Homo sapiens: one gene and its partner. The protein of the gene in region 2 interacts with the protein of the main gene of each other region in a pairwise test. Each region holds a gene or a part of one and is shown on either strand. Other genes may lie near its edges.

Region 1 (2,869 bases), on a different chromosome or scaffold from region 2:
ACGGCACTGGGTACCGTGGCGTGGCCAGCACCTCAGCCTCGGGCCTCAGCTGCCTGGCCTGGAACTCCGATCTGCTCTACCAGGAGCTGCACGTGGACTCCGTGGGCGCCGCGGCCCTGCTGGGCCTGGGCCCCCATGCCTACTGCCGGTCAGCACCACGCCGCTCCAGGCCGCCGCATGCGGGGCAGGCAGGATTTGTCCTGGGGAGAGGCCCCCCGGCTCCCTAGGACCCAGGCGGGGCCAGCTCCGTCCAGACAGGCCCCGGAACCTCTGCCTGGGAGGCTGCCCGAGGGAGGGCCACTCTCTTCCCACTGCTCCAGGTGCGGGGAACCGCCCTGCTGGGGGTTCCGATGCCCCCTCCCCATGCCCTCTTCGAGGGGCAGTGTGACTCCCTGCCAGCCCCCACTTATGCACCGCAGGAATCCGGACAATGACGAGAGGCCCTGGTGCTACGTGGTGAAGGACAGCGCGCTCTCCTGGGAGTACTGCCGCCTGGAGGCCTGCGGTGCGCGGCTGGCGGGGGGTGCTGCCTTGGGCCCCACCGAGGTCACAGCAGTTTTCCCCGTGATCCTCCTAGCCCCTCCGCACACCTGGCTACTGCATCTCTGACAAATGGGGAAACTGGAGCTCACGGGATCAGGCTGGTCCAAGGTCACGCAGTGGGTCGGTACTGGGGTCACAGTGGGGAAGCAGCCCGCTGCAGGGGGCTGGTCACCAGGCGACGGCCTCGGGGTGGCACCTGCCCAGCCTGGACCATGCCCAGGATGGCCGCAGAAGCCTTTCAGGGAGGTGCAGGGAGGGCAGCGTGCAGGCCCCCCAGAGGCCACCTGCTTCCTGCCCTGGGGAGAGGCCCCCCGGCTCCCTAGGACCCCGGCGGGGCCAGCCCGGGGCTCTCATGTGGGGGTCTCTGACTGTGCTGGGGCTGGCTGTGGGGTTCCGGGCTGCTGAGGGGGCCACAAAGGCCTCCGTGTGTCCAGCCCCTCTGGCCCTCACAGAGCCTCGGGATCGGGCATCAAACCCCATTCTACAGATTTGGAAACTGAGGGCAGAGGTGAGTGGGCGCCAGGGCCTGAGCAGCGTGGACAGGGGGTCCGGCCATGGCCCTCTGCAGCGCCTCCTGCCGGGTAGGGCCTGTGTGTGGAAGGGGGCTGGCCCTGTGAACCCCAGGGGTGTGACCCGGTGACCTTTGCTCCCAGAATCCCTCACCAGAGTCCAACTGTCACCGGATCTCCTGGCGACCCTGCCTGAGCCAGCCTCCCCGGGGCGCCAGGCCTGCGGCAGGAGGCACAAGAAGAGGACGTTCCTGCGGCCACGTATCATCGGCGGCTCCTCCTCGCTGCCCGGCTCGCACCCCTGGCTGGCCGCCATCTACATCGGGGACAGCTTCTGCGCCGGGAGCCTGGTCCACACCTGCTGGGTGGTGTCGGCCGCCCACTGCTTCTCCCACAGGTGCACCTCCTCTGGGCCCCAGTCACCTGCCCTGAGGCCCCACACACCATCCAGCGTCACTATGCGCCTGTCCCCACCCGCTTGCGGACCCCATCCCGGTGCCTCTGCTGACCCCTTCCCGGGGTCCCCGGTAACCCTCTCTGACCCCTCTGGGTCTTGGGGCTCAGTCCTGAGCTGGGCATGCATGGACACTCCAGAAACCCTGTCCCTATTGAGGGAGGCCAGGGGTCAGTGGCATTTCCACAGAGGACCCAGCGCCTGCGGAGAGTGCAGTGGGCCAGGTCCTGTCCTCCCCGCAGGCCCCGCCCCTCCCAGAGTCCTGGCTCTCAGTAGGGAGCCAGGGAGCGCAGTGACAATGCGTCAGAGCCCTAGGAGCCCAAGCACAGCCAGGGAAACTGAGGCCCAGCCCACTCAGCCGGCTCCCCTCAGTGGGGGCGCACAGCCACCCAGGCCCACACTCTGGGAGGCGGGCCTCGAGTGGGGAGACCCTGAGACGGAGCAGCCTGGGCCAGACGCCCTTCCACCTTCGATGGGCACCCCAGTGATTAGGGGCAGGGGTCCGGCCAGCCGAGGGTCTGGCGGCCTTTCGAGGACCACAGCTCCCAGGGTGGGGTCCTGCGTGGCCCTGCAGAACCTGCAGCCGGCGGCTCCTGGGCCTGCAAATGGGGCCAGAGCCTTCCTCAGTGTGGAGAAATGGGGTTCCCCACATGGAGCCCAGGGCAGGAGGCCGAGGCAGGGTGGAGCGACCTCCACACAGCAGATGGGAGCCAGGCTCAGGGGCCCAGGCTCTGTGCCCAGCAGGAGTGAGGGCTGCATCTGGGGACCCCACAATGTGGATGGAAGCTGGGGCAGGGCCTGAGCAGGCCAGGTCTCCACCCACTCGGGTCGGCCTTGCAGCCGATCCTGCCTGGGCTTGGCCTGAGACTCCCCCCAGGGCTTGTGACCAGTGTTGTCAGGAGGGATGGCACCGCACTTCAGCTCCCATGCCTGGATCTGGGGGTGACTGGCAATAGCCCCTGCTTGGTGGTCCCTGTCTCCCCAGTATCAACAGCCCACACCCAGGCACCTGCTCAGACCCCTCCCCGGGACCAGGGTCCCACACCATTGGCCTCCGTGGGCCTGACAGGGGGTGGGGAGAGGTGAGCCCGGTGGCTGGGGGAGGGCTGGTCCATGCAGCCTCCAGCCCCCCTTGCACAGCCCCCCCAGGGACAGCGTCTCCGTGGTGCTGGGCCAGCACTTCTTCAACCGCACGACGGACGTGACGCAGACCTTCGGCATCGAGAAGTACATCCCGTACACCCTGTACTCGGTGTTCAACCCCAGCGACCACGACCTCGGTGAGCTCCGGCGTGTCGTGGCTGCACTCTGGGCAGGTGGGCCCTGTGCTCCCCAGGCCAGGCCCAGACAGGGGCAGGAGCTG
Region 2 (3,860 bases):
TGTTCTCTGTATTTCCTGAATTTGAATGTTGGCCTGTCTTGCTAGGTTGGGGAAGTTCTCCTGGATAATATCCTGAAGAGTGTTTCCAACTTGGTTCCATTCCCCCCCTCACTTTCAGGTACACCAATCAAACATAGGTTTGGTCTTTTCACATAGTTCCATATTTGTTGGAGGCTTTGTTCATTCCTTTTCATTCTTTTTTTCTCTAATCTTGTCTTCACGCTTTATTTCATTAAGTTGATCTTCGACCTCTGATATCCTTTCTTCCGCTTGACCGATTTGGCTATTGATACTTGCATATGCTTCACGAAGTTCTCGTGCTGTGTTTTTCAGCTCCATCAGGTCATTTATGTTCTTCTCTAAACTGGTTATTCTAGTTAGCAATTCCTCTAAACTTTTTTCAAGGTTCTTAGCTTCCTTGCATTGGGTTAGAACATGCTCCTTTAGCTCGGAGGAGTTTATTACCCACCTTCTGAAGCCTACTTCTGTCAGTTCATCAAACTCATTCTCTGTCCAGTTTTGTTCCCTTGCTGGCGAGGAGGTGTGATCCTTTGGAGGAGAAGAGGCATTCTGGTTTTTGGAATTTTCAGCCTTTTTGTGCAGGTTTTTCCTCATCTTTGTGGATGTATCTACCTTTGGTCTTTGATATTGGTGAACTTCAGATGGGGTTTCTGTGTGGATGTCCTTTTTGTTGATGCTATTCCTTTCTGTTAGTTTCCCTTCTCACTGTCAGGCCCCTCTGCTGCAGGTCTGCTGGAGTTTGCTGGAGGTCCACTCCAGACACTGCCTGGGTATCACCAGTGGAGGCATCAGAAAAGCAAAGATTGCTGCCTGTTCCTTCCTCTGGAAGCTTTGTCGCAGAGGGGCACCCACTAGATGCCAGCCGGAGCTCTCCTGTATGAGGTGAGCTGTCAACCCCTGCTAGGAGGTGTCTTCCAGTCAGGAGGCACAGGGGTCAGGGACCCACTTGAAGAGGCAGTCTGTCCCCTAGCAGACTTTGAGTGTTATGCTGGGAGATCTGCTGCTCTCTTCAGAGCTGGCAGGCAGGAACATTTAAGTCTGCTGAAGCTGTGCCCACAGCTACCCCTTCCCCCAGGTGCTCTGTCCCAGGGAGCTGGGAGTTTTATCTGTAAGACTGGGGCTGCTGCCTTTCTTTCAGAGATGCCCTGCTCAGAGAGGAGGAATCTAGAGAGGCAGTCTGGCCACAGTGGCTTTGCCGAGCTGCAGTGGGCTCTACCCAGTTCGAACTGGCAGCTTTCTTTACACTGTGAGAGGAAAACCACCTACTCCAGCCTCAGCAATGGCGGATGCCCCTCCCCTCTACCAAGCTCGAGCATCCCGGGGCAACTTCAGACTGCTGTGCTGGCAGCAAGAATTTCAAGCCAGTGTTTCTTAGCTTGCTGGGCTCCATTGGGGTGGAATCCAATGAGTTAGACCACTTGGCTCCCTGGCTTCAGCCTCCTTTCCAGGGGAGTGAACAGTTCTGTCTCGCTGGCGTTCCAAGTGCCACTGGGGTACCAAAAAAAAAAAAAAAAAAAAAAAAAAAACTCCTGCAGCTAGCTCAGTGTCTGCCCAAATGGCCGCCCAGTTTTGTGCTTGAAACCCAGGGCCCTGGTGGTGTAGGCACCTGAGGGTATCTCCTGGTCTGTGGGTTGCGAAGAGCATGGGAAAAGCGTAGTATCTGGGCCAGAGTGCACTGTCCCTCATGGCACAGTCCCTCATAGTTTCCCTTGGCTAGGGGAGGAGTTCCCCAACCCCTTGCACTTCCTAGATGAGGCGATGCCCCACCCTGCTTCTGCTCACCCTCTGTGGGCTGCATCCACCGTCTAACCAGTCCCAGTGAGATGAGCCAGGTACCTCAGTTGGAAATGCAGAAATCACCTGTCTTCTGTGTTGATCTCGCTGGGAGCTGCGGACCAGAGCTGTTGCTATTTGGCCATCTTACCAGCCACTCTGTTGTTGTTTTAAATAACCTAATCTTGTCAATCCTTTATTACTTCTCGATTGTTGTTATATTTAGAAGGGCATTTCCTATTCTAAGTTTATAAACAACTTACCCACATTTTTTTCCAATGTACAGTTTCATATTTACATTTAAATTGTTCATCCATTTAAAACTCCTTTTTGATGTAAGGAGTAAGGAAATACAAAGAATGCAGAAGTAAGGAAATACAAAGAATGCAGCTTTTTTTTTTCCTGTAGTGACAAGCCAGTTCTGCCAGGGCCCTCTACTGAATAATCTATTTTTACCTACTGCTTTGAACAACTATCTTTGTTATATACTAAATTTTCTAACAATATACTTTTTCTTAAAGAGATGGAATCTTGTCGCCCAGGCTGGAGTGCAGTGGTACAATCATGGCTCACTGCAGCCTTGAACTCCTGGACCTAAGCAATCCTCACACCTCAGTCTCCGAGTAGGCACATGCTGCCGCACATGGCTTGACAAAATACTTTTAGATGTGACCCTTGCAAGGCCTTTTGTTATTCTAGTAGAGGTAAGTCAGTGGGTGGGGTATATTATAAATTTGAAAGCAGAAAATAAACTCCATTCTCACTTCAAGGGAAGTGTACAGATAACCATTTAATATTCTCTTTTCTTTAAACAGCCAATAAAAAATTTATTGAGCAGCTACCATGAGTCAGGTGCTGTATTCACATCAGGCAGCTCAGGGTGGTATTAAGAGCACAGACTGGAATCCCATTGCCATATCTGAATCCTGGCTCCACCACTCAGGAACCCCACAGACTGGAGCCTCACAGCCATGTCTGACACTGGCTCCACCACTCAGGAACTCCAAGACTGGAACCCCACAACCATGTCTGACCCTTGCTCTACCACTCAGGGGACACAGGACCTGTCTGTGCATCACTGTCCTGCTCACAAGGTTTTTAAGAGGATTCAGTGAGTTGAGTGAGAAGCGCTTAGAGCTACATTTGGCACATAGTAATTGCTCAACAAATGTTGACAACTATTAGGGATGGAAAGATGAACAACAAATCATTTCTAGATTCAATCTTTTTTCCATTTTATGAGGAAACAGTGATGCATGTTTTCCTTCCATAACCATTCTACTTTATAGCAACCAGTCCTCCTCTTTCCTTCTCCTGACTCTGCCACCAACTAAAATAGCAGTACCTGCCATTACCTGGGGCTGACCTACAGTTGCCACTGAGGCCGTGGACATCCCAGACCAGGATCATATTATGAAAAAGGTTTGAGGAAGCCAAGCCTCAAACAGTCCTGGAAGTCATACAATCCTGGAAGCCCCTCACTGTCACCCAGTGCTTGGCTGGCCAGGAAGGTGAGCAGCTGTCTAGACAGCACTCTTAGGAGAGCCCTGGGCTCCCAATGGGAGCAGGGCTGCCCAGGTAAATAGTGACACAAGGAAAGGAAGTAACACAATGAGGCTTCAGGCCTGCAAGGTGCCTCCTCACAGGCTTCCAGGACTGTAGAAACCCTTGCTGCTGAAGGATAAGGGACACACACTGGCGAGAAATGATCAAGACTGATGAAGGCTGGTGGCAGGAACTCACAGGCAGAGTTTATGGTGGTCAAATACATCAGACACTCTCCCTTCTCCCACCTTAGAATTTATTTGGATTGCGGATGAGATGGAAGTGGGTGAGTGATATACTGCATCAAACAGAGGTATTAATTTAATATTCATTTTCATTTAAGCTTCAGAATATGTTTGTCTCATACTTGGTTATAAGCTTCCAACATACTGAAAATGATTAACTTAAATCAGCTAAACTCTGTGAGGCTCCAGGCTTTCCCAAAATTAAAACAAGTGGTGTGTTTTCACATTAAAAATCACTTGATAGGCTGGGTGTACACAGTGGCTCATGTGTATAAT

What was found.
Region 1: the proteins of GOLM1 (region 2) and HGFAC interact in binary tests that used the Homo sapiens proteins (3 or more experiments, as listed by UniProt).

The regions. Positions count from the first base shown.
Region 1 is NC_000004.12:3,444,846-3,447,714, forward strand, and holds part of HGFAC (hepatocyte growth factor activator serine protease isoform 2 preproprotein), read left to right. Parts: coding exon 1-148; intron 149-419; coding exon 420-505; intron 506-1,030; coding exon of another isoform or gene 1,031-1,051; intron 1,052-1,196; coding exon 1,197-1,449; intron 1,450-2,646; coding exon 2,647-2,786; intron 2,787-2,869. UniProt on the Homo sapiens protein: Serine protease that hydrolyzes the inactive zymogen hepatocyte growth factor (HGFsc) to an activated disulfide-linked heterodimer, then initiating hepatocyte growth factor receptor signaling pathway.
Region 2 is NC_000009.12:86,089,268-86,093,127, forward strand, and holds part of GOLM1 (Golgi membrane protein 1), read right to left. Parts: intron 1-3,860.